Linked DNA regions of Homo sapiens. The protein of the gene in region 2 interacts with the protein of the main gene of each other region in a pairwise test. Each region holds a gene or a part of one and is shown on either strand. Other genes may lie near its edges. The genes, in order: RIMS4, PELI1 and INPP5J.

Region 1 (3,746 bases), on a different chromosome or scaffold from region 2:
GTCCAGAATAATAATACAACCTCCCTCAGCTACATGAAGGCAGAAGTTAAACCTCTGAGCCTCAGTTGTTTTTTTCTGTAAAATGGTGATTATAAAAATGGTAAAATGTCTCTGCAGTAATCATCTTTACCCTTACCCCCATCCCCACCTCCAGGTCAATAGAAAGACAGGTCTATTGGGGATCTGCCTCACCTATCCCCATTCATTCACCAGTCAACAAATTCTTCTGGAGAAAGGGCAGGAAGACATGCCCACCACTTCATCCCATGATGGAACCTTGGTGGCCAGGTTGATCAGACAAGGGTCCCCAAAGACTAAGTCTAAACCTGGGCCCAGGAACTTCCTAAAACCGTAGGCTACATTTTGTGGATGGTGCATATATGCACTTCGGGAGAGATAGTCCATGTTTTCCTCAGAGACTTGAAAGTGCCCATGAAACCATTTTGCTCCTCAAGCACATACACTCCTCCAGCACATACACTCCTCTGTTTTGTTCCCCCATTGAATTCAAAGACTCTCGGATTTTCACCTTATAAAACACTGAACTCCACCCTCACACCATACAGAGCTTTGCATCGATACGATGATCCCCATTTCAGAGATGAGGAAATCCAGGCTCAGAGGTGGCATGACTTGCCCAAGGTCACAGCTAAGAAGTAGAGAATGAAGACTGGAACCTGATTCCGATTCCCAATCTGGCATTCTTTGGGGAACTCTCACCCAAGCCCTCTAGCTACCCCACCTGTTGGTGGATTCCCTTCCTCACCCCAGAACCAAATCCGGAGCTCTCATGTTCCTTCTGCCGGGTCCCAGGGCCCTAAAGAGTAGGTTTCCCTACAGCTCCCCACCCCTCGCTCTGGCTGAGGTTGTGCGCAGGCCTGGGAGGAGGAGGTTCAAGCCGCTGGCTGGTGGCCGGCTTCAGCCCACCAAGAAAGGCGACTCCAGGGACAAGAGCACCTGAGGTCAGGGGCACACACCAGCGGGCGGACAAGTGTAGAGTTGGCGCCGCCCTACACCTCTCTCCGGGAAGAGAGGGGAGGAAAGGCCGTCACCTGGCCGGTTCCCCTCCGTCTGCCCCAGGCGTATAAGAAGCAGGAGTCTGGAGCCCCAGCCCATGAGGGAAGGAGAGGAGAGATAAATGGGGGCGCTCAAGGCCTGGGGCGCCGGGCAGGGGTCTTGGGCAGGGATCCTCTGGATGTGGCCAAGACAAAGATGGAGAGGTAAGGTCTGCGCGCCACCTCCAATGGCGGGGGGCGCGTCGGAGCCCCAGGGGTGGGACGGCCAAAGCCCAGGGCTTGAAGAGTGGGCACATTCAGGAGACTCAGGGAGGGTGGCAGGTCGGCTCCAGGGACGAGGCAAGGGGCCTCCAATAGGCGCGGGTGAGGAGGGAGATGGGTCCTGGCGACCCAAAGGGCCCACCTGCGGGAAAGGTGAATGCAGACAATCTCGGGGTCCCTGGGGGAGAAGGCCAGAAGGTAGCGCATCCTGGAGACCCTGGGGTCCCGTGGGTGCGGAAGGAGACCCTGGGGGCGCCTTCCCAGGGGATTGGGGGTGGGGAGGAGGGCGCACGGGTCGGGGAGGGGGCTACCGGACCTGGATCCCGGGACACCCCGGGGGTCTGGGGGGCGGGCCGCGCGCTTACCTGCGTCCTCGTCGTCGAAGGAGTTCATGCACGGGAAGTAGATGGCGAGCGCCTCGAAGGAGGCGGACAGACTGAGGCGGCTCTGCGAGCGCTCCATGCCCGCGCCGGCGCCGGGCGCCTCGGCCGCGGCGGCGGCGGCGGCGGCGGGCGGCTTGGGCAGCTTGGCCGCCCCATTCTTGACGCGGAGTACGGCGCGCGGCGTGGTGGCGGCGGCCCGGGGCCGGGCCGAGGCTCCGCTGCGGGGCTGGCGGGCGCGGCGGGGCCGGCGGGCGGGCCAGGAGCTGGCGGCGCGCGGAGCCCGAGGCGCGCTGTGCTGCTGGCGGCGGCGGCGGCGGCGGCGGTGGCGGCGGCGGTGGCGGCGCAGCGCGCTCTGGTCCGCGGCGCCCCCCGCCGGCAGCGCGAGGCGGGCTTGGAGCGGCGCCGCAGCCAATCCGTGCCGCCGGGGGAGGGGGCGCCGCTGCGGGGCGTGGGAGCCCGGAGGGCGCGGGCTGCGGCCTCTTCTAGCAGCCCCCGGGCCCGGCAGGTGCGCGCGGGGAGGCAGGCGCCGGGCGAGGTTGTCTGGGCCCTGGTCCGAGGGCTGTTCCCGACCCCGCCTCGGCCCCCACCCTCAGCCGGCCGACTTGCGGAGAGGCCGGCGTCCAGTCCCTCACCCAGACAGGCCTCTCCCAGAGACACTGGCGCGCTCGGAGGGGATGCGCTCAAAGGGTCCCGCCCAGGCGGGTCGGCACTCGGCCTCCCACACAGAGACCCTCGGCTTCACACCTGCACCCACAGAGAAGCTCAAACAGGCACCCACACCTACACATTCACTCTGCAACATGCCCCGCAGACACCCGGACAGATACACCCACAGACCCACCCCCTCACAGATGCGGGGACAGACACGTCCACGGACACACGCAGACTCACGCAGAGACCTGCAAACACACTCAGGGAGGTAGGCAGGACATCCCTGGTGCCCGGCCTCCCTCACGGGGAGACTCTCAGATGCCACAAAACCCCACGAAGTTCAGGTAGGCATACACAGTCTCATGCATTCACACTTACCAAAGACACCCCAGAATTCATACACACATTCATACACTCAGATGAACACACAAGCCCAGACCCAGCACACACTCTGTGTCGCCTCCCCCTGTGATCATCTCAGCACTGTCAAACACTCTGACTGACACGGCCAGATGCACACACCTTCACCCTCAGACACACTAGAGTAGCACACACACGCCAAGACACAGCCACACAGACTCCATCCCTCCCAGTGTGGGTGCATCCCGACGGATTGACTGACACCCTCAGACTCAGGTACACTGAGACACACTTGGCAGGCTCACACTCACAGACTCTCCCATTATCACCCTCGGCGACCCGCAGTCCTCAGACACACACGGGCTCAGACACTCACAGCCCCAGGACAGAGACGAGCGAATCGGAAACCCGTGTTCCATTCCCTGCATGTGACCTGGGACGTGAGGGTCCCTGCCCACCTAATCAGGCCCCAGATGTCAAACAACCTTCTCAGCTGCTCGCACACCTCTTTATGAAGCCATCTGGCGACATGGAAACAGTTCAGGCCTCAGAAAGAGACAGCCCAGAGTTTGAATCTCAGCTGTGGTGCTGTCTTTCTGGGTGGCCTATGGCAAAACTCTTTATCCCATGGGTCCTGTTCCTCATCTGTACAATGGGGACAGGAGCCTTCCATTTTGGATGGTTGTGAACTGCCTGTAAGATAACACAGGTGTTTGTTTTCTATTGCTGCATAACAAATGAAGCAGCTTAAAAACACCAATCTAGTGATTTACAATCCTGTAGGTCAGAAGTCTGGGCAGCCTGAGCTGGGTTCTCTGCTTAGGGCCTCACAAAGTATTGGCCAGACTGGGCTCTTCTCTGCAGGCTCTGGAGAAGAATCCGCTTCCAAGATCATTCAGGTTGTTGGCAGGATTCAGTTCCTTGTGGTTGCAGGACTGAGGTTCCTGTTTCCTTGCTGGCTGTCAGCCAGAAGTCAACCTCAGCTCCTAGAAGTGGCTTTCTGGTCCTTTCACCTGGCCCCTTCCACCTTCAAGGCCAGTTTCAGGATGTCAAGCCCTTCTCATCCTTCAGTAGA
Region 2 (3,746 bases):
AAGCCAGTTAGAGCTGGGTTTTCTGCTGCTTTCAACCACAAGCATCATAATTCATAACTTTACTTTTCCCTTCACCCCCAAACCTAGGCAATTAGTCACTATGTTCTATATTCTATCCCCTGAATAGTGTCTGATTACCCTCAGTTTTCTCTTCTGCCACTGCCTTACCTTAGTTCAGTCTCTCATGGTTTTTTCCCCTGTAATACTGTAACAGGTCCCATACATACCACACTCCATAGAGTGATCTTTCTAAAATGCCTATCTTATCAAAATTCCATCTGCTTACAATCCTTGTGTGGCTTCCCATTGTTTCCAGGAAAAGGTTCATGTTCCTTAGCATATTGTGCAAGATTCTTCATTACCTAAGCTGTCTCCCTTACCTTTTTCAGTGTCTCCTCTTGCCACTCCCCCAACTCCATTCTACTGCCAGCAATGCAACTATTTGCTGAACCAAAATACGTTTGGGTCTCACACCTTTAGGTATTTGTGCTTGATGCTCTCCCCAACACCACCCCCAATGCTCTCACCCACCTCTCTCTTCCTCCTCCCCTACCAAAATACACAAACATGTTAATTCCTAGTTATCTCAAGTGATCTTTGAAGCATTTCCTGATTTTGCCCACATCTGTGGGTAGCTTTGCATTTTCCTATTGTAGTACTTCTCAAATTAAGTCTATTTACCTGTCTCCTCCTTTGCATAGTAAGCACTCTGAAAATAAGAATGTTTCTTTTACATTTTTGTATCTCTATTTCTGGGGCTCAAAACAGTGCCTAGCACAAGTAGACACTCAACAAGCATTTTTTGAATGAGTGTATAATTATATAGTCTGTAGATATAAGGATTTCTGATCTTGAGACTCTCTGAAAGCCTTGCTCCAAAAGTGTGTCTGATTCCTAAGCATTAATCTTTTTCTTCCAGGGTGTGGGGTTCTAGGTAGGTGGAGAAGGAAAACAAAAGCGCTCAGGACGCGTTGCCTTTAGCTCTCCGGAGAGCCAGTAATGTGTCCTGCCTTTCTCCACCCTCCTCCCTACCACCTTTCCACACCTGGGTGCCCAAGATGGGTGTAGACTTAGCTGACCAGCCCAACAACATACTCATACCTTGGTTCAGACTTCTCTTATTACCAAACTAAAGTTGGCCAATACACATAAACAATTTTCAACTTGTCTTTTGAACGTATACTTTATGAAATTTGTATGTCTTAAAAATTGTAGGCCTTAAAATGAACGAACCCGGATTCTTTTATAGTAATCAAGTAAAATATAGGGGTCTTAATTCTGTACTTTGCCTTTGCTAATCTTAAAGTTAGATGTGACTAACTGAGCAAAGTAATTAATTACGGGACTTTGATAGTGGTGATATTCCTAAGTTTTATAACCTAATTGTTCAATTACTGGAAACAACTACATTTCGACAAGTCTTAGGTAAAGAAAATTGAATTTAGCCGGAGAAGATTCAATTGAGGGAAGTGAGGGACAGAGGTATTTGTGATTTAGGGTTTGTGGAAGATAAATTACGCAGCAGGGAAGACTGAAATATGGAGAGAAAGTCAGACCTCACTGGGTACTTATGACTGGTAAGGCTAGGAGTTGGAGGTGGAGAAAAGTAGGAAGGACCGTCTAAGGGTTGGATCCCCAACAACACCATAATACAAGACCGTCCTTGTTCAGCCAACAGCAGCACTGAACACGTTCGCTAAGTGTGTCGGTGACCATGGTAACGGTGGGAGGGGGCGGTCCAAACCTCGCCCTCGAGCATGCTCAGTGCAGAGCGAGCCTGGTAGGGTGCTGGACAACAATGAATCCCTTTTTTCTTCAACCGGAGAACTACAATTCCCAAGAGCCTTCTCGGTGCGGCGACACCGCCTTCCGCTGTGGCCCTGCCCGGTCCCCTCCCTCAGGCCCCGCCCCCCGGCTAGACCCCTCCCCTCCTTGCGAGTGTATGTCAGTGACCCAGAGGCGGTGTGAGGCGGAGGGACCGTCGGGGGGCGCCGCCGCCGCCTCCACTAGCAGCAGCGGCAGCAGCCCTAGTCCCGCGGTGCGGTCGAATTGGTCCCCAGCCCTCCGGGAGCGCACCACAAAGCAGCCCCAACGCCTCTCCCTGCGTCCGCGGCTCCTCAGCGCTCGGCTCCGTGGTCAACTTCCCCTCGCTGGGCTCGGCTGGCGGGCGCGGAGGGCAGCGGCGGAACGGCGGGCTGTCTGCTCGCGCTCCCCGCGCACAACACTTCACCCTCTCGCCTCGGGTCTCGGGGGCCGCTCTGGGATCCCGGCCACCAGCAATTGTCCGGTAAGTGTGACCGCGGGGCGCCGCGGGATGGATGGCGGCGGGGCCGCCGAGGGGCGCGGGGAGGGCGGGCGCGCAACTTCCTCGGCGGCTTCCCCGGCGGCCAGCAGCCGGCTCTCCCCGCCCGCCTGCGCGCCCCCGCTGCGGCGGGGAGCGGAGTTTGCGGCGCCTGCATCCCGCGCCCTGGCTCGAGGAAGCGCCTTTGTCAGGAACCGGCCCTACGCGGCCTCCCCCTCCGCCCGGGAGCGGGGCGCGCGGCGGCCAACTCCGAGCCCCGCGCCTGGCTGGCCGCGCGCTCCGGCTGCGAGAGGGGAGCTCTGCGGGTGGCGGGGAGGAGAGGGAAATGGGAGAAACAAAAGGGGCGGTGGGTTTCCCTTTTGTTTGTGCGGATCTGATAACTTCTTTTCCTCCCTTACATAACGCAGACTTCAAGTTAGTCATTCTTTTTATTGTTATGATTGTTGTCATCATCTCTGCGCGTCTTTCACATTTCCTTTCATCTTTGGATCTCAGAGCATTTTAAACACGCTAATTAATTTCACCCCCGGGTCCCCTAGGAAACAAGTTAATACGCCCGTTTCCCTAAGTGGGTAAACTGAGGTCGTGAAAAGCTCTCAAATTGATGGATACGCTTGATCTTCTACCGCGCCTCGTGTCTGAGTATATGAAAGCGTTTATGAGGAAGAACCCGTTCTCCAAAGCCCCGTGGAAAAGTTAAAGATGCTCATTTTACTTACAGGTTAACTGAAGTCCAAAAGATGTCTAGGTAATTGTTACGTAGTTCAAACCATAATTCTTCTTACATAGTGTTTGAATCTTAAAACCTCTAAAGACTTAGTGAAAAATGCTCCGAGTAGGGAAATTAATGTAAATCATAAACTCACGTCACCATCTACTTTTATTTTTGTACGTGCAGGTCTGTTAGAGGCAAGAGAGCAAGAAGGGGACAGAGGGCAGAGGTTTTTTAAAAATGTACATTTAACAGATTTTAATCACTACACACAAGGAAATGTGCCTTGGTTTTAACAGCACCAACAATATTCCTGTCGTTTAGTCATCAAACAGTATATCAACAAATGTTATTGAGAACTTTATTCATAAGGTGCTGGTTGTGCTAAAAACTGAAGCTTTATATATAAGAAAAGGTCATCTGTTTCGGTTCACAGGCTCTTTACTTTTTCTTACTCTGCAAAATGTTACTTTGTTTTCATTGCACATGATCTTTTGTTTCAGAAATGGCATTGTCCTTTACTGTGTCGAATATGTATTACTCTTACACTTAAGGATAAATGAATTTATTATTAAGTTTTCATAATAGGGTGAATTTAAAATATTTTAATTGTGGTAAAGGTTCACTTTATTCAGTTCTGTTTCAGTTTACGATGCGTTTTCTTTATAGCCAACAAAATATTTTCTGAGTGATAAGATTTACATGTCTCAAAACATTGTTCTTAGTGTACAA
Region 3 (3,746 bases), on a different chromosome or scaffold from region 2:
ATTCCCTCTAGGATTGCATGAAAAGCTGGGTAGTCTTGGGGGCTCCCATTTTCTTTTTCTTTTTTCTTTTCTTTCTTTCTTTTTTTTTTTTTTTTTGAGACAGGGCCTCTCTCTGTCACCCAGGCTGGAGTGCAGTGGTACGATCTTGGCTCATTGCAACCTCCACCTCCACCTCCCAGGTTCAAACAATTCTCCTGTCTCAGCCTCCCAAGTCGCTGAGACTACAGGCATGTACCACCACACCCGGCTCATTTTTATATTTTTAGTGGAGATGGGGTTTCGCCATGTTGACCAGGCTGGTCTCGAACTCCTGACCTCAGGTGATCTGCCCACCTCAGCCTCCCAAAGTGCTGGGATTACCCGCACTTTGCCAGTACTCCCCCAGCCCGGGGGCTCCCATTTTCTTATTTGTAAAACAGGAGACAGAGGATAAGACAGGATGAGTTCGAATCTTCCTTTTTCTGGTAACCTGAGCATCACCACCAGGTCTACTCTCACATCCTCCCTGACTGTCACCTCCAACTCCAACACTACCTCTTTCATTGACACAACACCATCATCAGTATTGGTATCATCATCACCTCTACCTTTGCCATCACCATCACCTCCACCACCTTCACCACAACCACTGCTAGCCCCCTACTTCCATCATCACAGTTACATACATCATCACATCCATCACCACAGTCGCCTTCCCCGTCACCACTGTCACCATCTCCACTATCGCTGTCCAAAGACCTTTCTACCCCAACACTCTAATATGGCCTGAGTCTCTGCCCCTGCAAATTCCAGCAGAGATGCTGGCCTGAGAATACAGACTAGACCTACTGACAGTCAAGCAGAGGTAGGAAGTGCCTTCAGGAGAGGAAAGTGAGGCATCTGCCTTCATGTAGGAGACTGCACAGGCCCATGCAGATGCTCCATGTTGGTTAACAGGGAGCTCTGCACACACAACTCTGAACACTTTCTGCCTAAAGTGGGTGGGATCACTCCTCTCTAAGCCATGAGAAACAGATCCCACAGCCATCCCAGCCCAATCTGACCCTCATCACCCATTCACTCTTCTAATTCATTTATTCATTCAACAAACACTCCCGTAGGCCTGTTGGGGACCATGTCCTGGGCTGGGTCCTGGCTGTAGCAATTCTCAGGCCTGTTTGTAACTCTCTTGTCAGTCTGTTACCCCACTGCTGGGCCCTTCTCCACCCAAGTTCCCTTCCCCCAGATAGCTCGAAGGGCTTGTGCTCATCCTAGGTCACTAAGTTTTCTCACTGAAACACAGGAGACCTTCTCAGTTCACCAGGTGACCTTGAGCAAGTTCCCCTCCCAAACCACACCCAGTGAATACTGGAGAGAAGAAAGCTGACAGAAGCCGGGCTGGGTTAGGCCTGGCTGTGGGGACATCTGAGGGCAGCTAGGTGTCTGCAGAAGAGGAGGGGCTGGTGCTGAGGCCTGAGATGGGAAAAGACTGCAGTGGCTGGAGCCTGAGTGTCTGGTTCTGGGTTGGGAAGAATAGAGCCTGGGACTGGCAGTAGGAGTGGAGAGGGTGGCACCAAGACCTGAAAATGGGGCAAGGGTGGGGGCCGGGGCAAGCTCTGAGCTGGCAGGGAGCCAGGAAGGTCACAGGATCAGGGCAAGAACTCAGTTGTCTCTGAGGCCCTGGAGAGGGTGCAGACCTCTGAACCACCTGTCCTACCTTAAGGCAGGTGTGTTAATGCCCCTCCCTGGAGCAAAGGGCTGACCAGGCCTACGGCAGAAAGGTGAAGGTAGACAGACAGCCTCCTTCCTGCTGCCAGTTGGGACCTGGGCCAGGCAGATGGGTACACTCTCCCCTCCCCACTCCATGGCTGTTCCAGCCTCAGCAGCCAGTTTGAAGGATTCCCAGGGGGTAGCCACCTTGCTTCGGCCTCTTCCAGGCTGGGAAGTGGGAGCCTGTGCCTTTAAATTCTCAGCAGGTTGAAATGGCTGATGACATCACTGGTTCCCGGGAGCGGTAGAGCTGGAGCCGGAGCCAAGGGAGTCCAGGCTGCCGGGGGCTGCAGACATGGAGGGCCAGAGCAGCAGGGGCAGCAGGAGGCCAGGGACCCGGGCTGGCCTGGGTTCCCTGCCCATGCCCCAGGGTGTTGCCCAAACTGGGGCACCCTCCAAGGTAAGACCCCTGAGACCCAGTGCCCCCCGCTTTCCTGATCCCTGGTTCCACACACCCCCCCCACATACACTGCAGGCTCCCTGGTGCTCCTGACTGAGGGGCTGGTACTTTCCTCTGCTCAGCGAGCAGGGGCTAGGTGAAGAGAGCACCCTGGGGGCTGAGGGGCAGTGACAGGATGCCCGGAGACAGATGAAGTTAGCCATCTCCAGGAGCCCTTGGGAGAGTCCTGGACTGGGTATCAGAGGACCCAGCTGTGCTCCACCTTTGCTGTGTGACCTTGGCCAAGTTGCTTTTCCTCTCTGAGCCAATGCAAAATGAGGGGGCTTGTCGCTGAAGACTAAAACTGTGACATCTGGGATGGCTAAGTTGTTAGTACTGGAGGCGGTGTGATAGTTGGGGGGAAGCCGGCACACAGTGTGACACTTGGAGCCAAGGAGGGTGCCTAAAATGCCACCTCAAAGAACTGAGTTTGAGAAGGGAGGTGGAGATGGAGTTTTAGGTACTCTGAACTGAGAAGGATACGGGACAGAAACAGAAGTGCGTCTCCAGAGGCAGGGCCTCCCTGCGCCCTGTTACCCTACCTAGGGCCATCCTGGGGCAAGTATAGACATTCTTCTGCCCTCCTTGGTGAAGGACACTTTATCCTGTCTTCTGGAGACAGGGGACATCAGAGAGAATAGATGGGGAAGGAGGATAGGTCTCTACAGGACTCCGTGACTCCCCACCCCTCCCACCTGCCGGACATAAATGGGATACCTGCTTGCCTGTCCTTTCAGGTAGGGGAGAAAGTGGAGGATGTAAGAGGGCACAACCTGGGCACAGAGAGATGTGACACCAGGATCAACTTAGAATCCTGGACTTGCTCTGAATGCTAGATTCACACTTGGTGAGGATGGACTATTCAACGGGGCTAGATGGAATTCTAGCAAATGTTGGGCTCATAAATGCAGACAATGGGAGATGAAGATTCCCCAGAATATAATGTGGCCAGGAACCCTAGACCCCATCCCTTCATTTTACAGACAGAGAAACTGAGGCGCTGGGCAGAGAGGTACTTGCCTAAGGTCACACAGAGCTGGGCTTTGAATCTACACAGCCAGTCTCAGCTCCCAGCTCTTGCTCCTGAGTGGAGCTCTGGGAATGGGTAAGAGAACAGAGAGGGCTGTAACCAAGGGATTTGGATGTTTAGGGGGCGGTGGGGAACTGAGGGTTTCTGGGCATTATGAAGGAAGGGAGAGGTATTTAACAAGCTGCACCTGTAGGTCTGTATCTTGACAATAGAAAAAGAAAAGAAACAGGCTGTCCCCAGTGTGCCCAGACCTGGGATGTCAGGTCAGTAGCCGTGGCTGGGGGAGCTTCAGGGACTGCAGTGGGAGGGTTGCCCAGGGAAGCTGCCCCGAATGGGCAGGGTGTGGGTGCCAGCCAGGAAGGCAAGGCAAGTCCTCAGGTTTAGGTTCACACTCTGCCTCATTTGAGTCAGGGTCTGAGTTTCCCCATCTGTGAAAGAGGTTTCAGACTTAAAGGAGGGGTTAGGGTTTTGTGTCCTATCTCCTCCAAGACAGAAGTTGACCTGCAGCAGAATAGATTGAAGTGAGAT

The links.
Region 1: the proteins of PELI1 (region 2) and RIMS4 interact in binary tests that used the Homo sapiens proteins (3 or more experiments, as listed by UniProt).
Region 3: the proteins of PELI1 (region 2) and INPP5J interact in binary tests that used the Homo sapiens proteins (3 or more experiments, as listed by UniProt).

Annotation. Positions count from the first base shown.
Region 1 is NC_000020.11:44,808,533-44,812,278, forward strand, and holds the start of RIMS4 (regulating synaptic membrane exocytosis protein 4), read right to left. Parts: upstream 2,015-3,746; 5' UTR 1,740-2,014; coding exon 1,643-1,739; intron 1-1,642. UniProt on the Homo sapiens protein: Regulates synaptic membrane exocytosis.
Region 2 is NC_000002.12:64,142,622-64,146,367, reverse strand, and holds the start of PELI1 (E3 ubiquitin-protein ligase pellino homolog 1), read left to right. Parts: upstream 1-1,947; 5' UTR 1,948-2,287; intron 2,288-2,841; exon of another isoform or gene 2,842-3,050; intron 3,051-3,746. UniProt on the Homo sapiens protein: E3 ubiquitin ligase catalyzing the covalent attachment of ubiquitin moieties onto substrate proteins. Involved in the TLR and IL-1 signaling pathways via interaction with the complex containing IRAK kinases and TRAF6.
Region 3 is NC_000022.11:31,120,971-31,124,716, forward strand, and holds the start of INPP5J (phosphatidylinositol 4,5-bisphosphate 5-phosphatase A), read left to right. Parts: upstream 1-1,995; 5' UTR 1,996-2,044; coding exon 2,045-2,149; intron 2,150-2,925; exon of another isoform or gene 2,926-3,035; intron 3,036-3,171; exon of another isoform or gene 3,172-3,293; intron 3,294-3,746. UniProt on the Homo sapiens protein: Inositol 5-phosphatase, which converts inositol 1,4,5-trisphosphate to inositol 1,4-bisphosphate.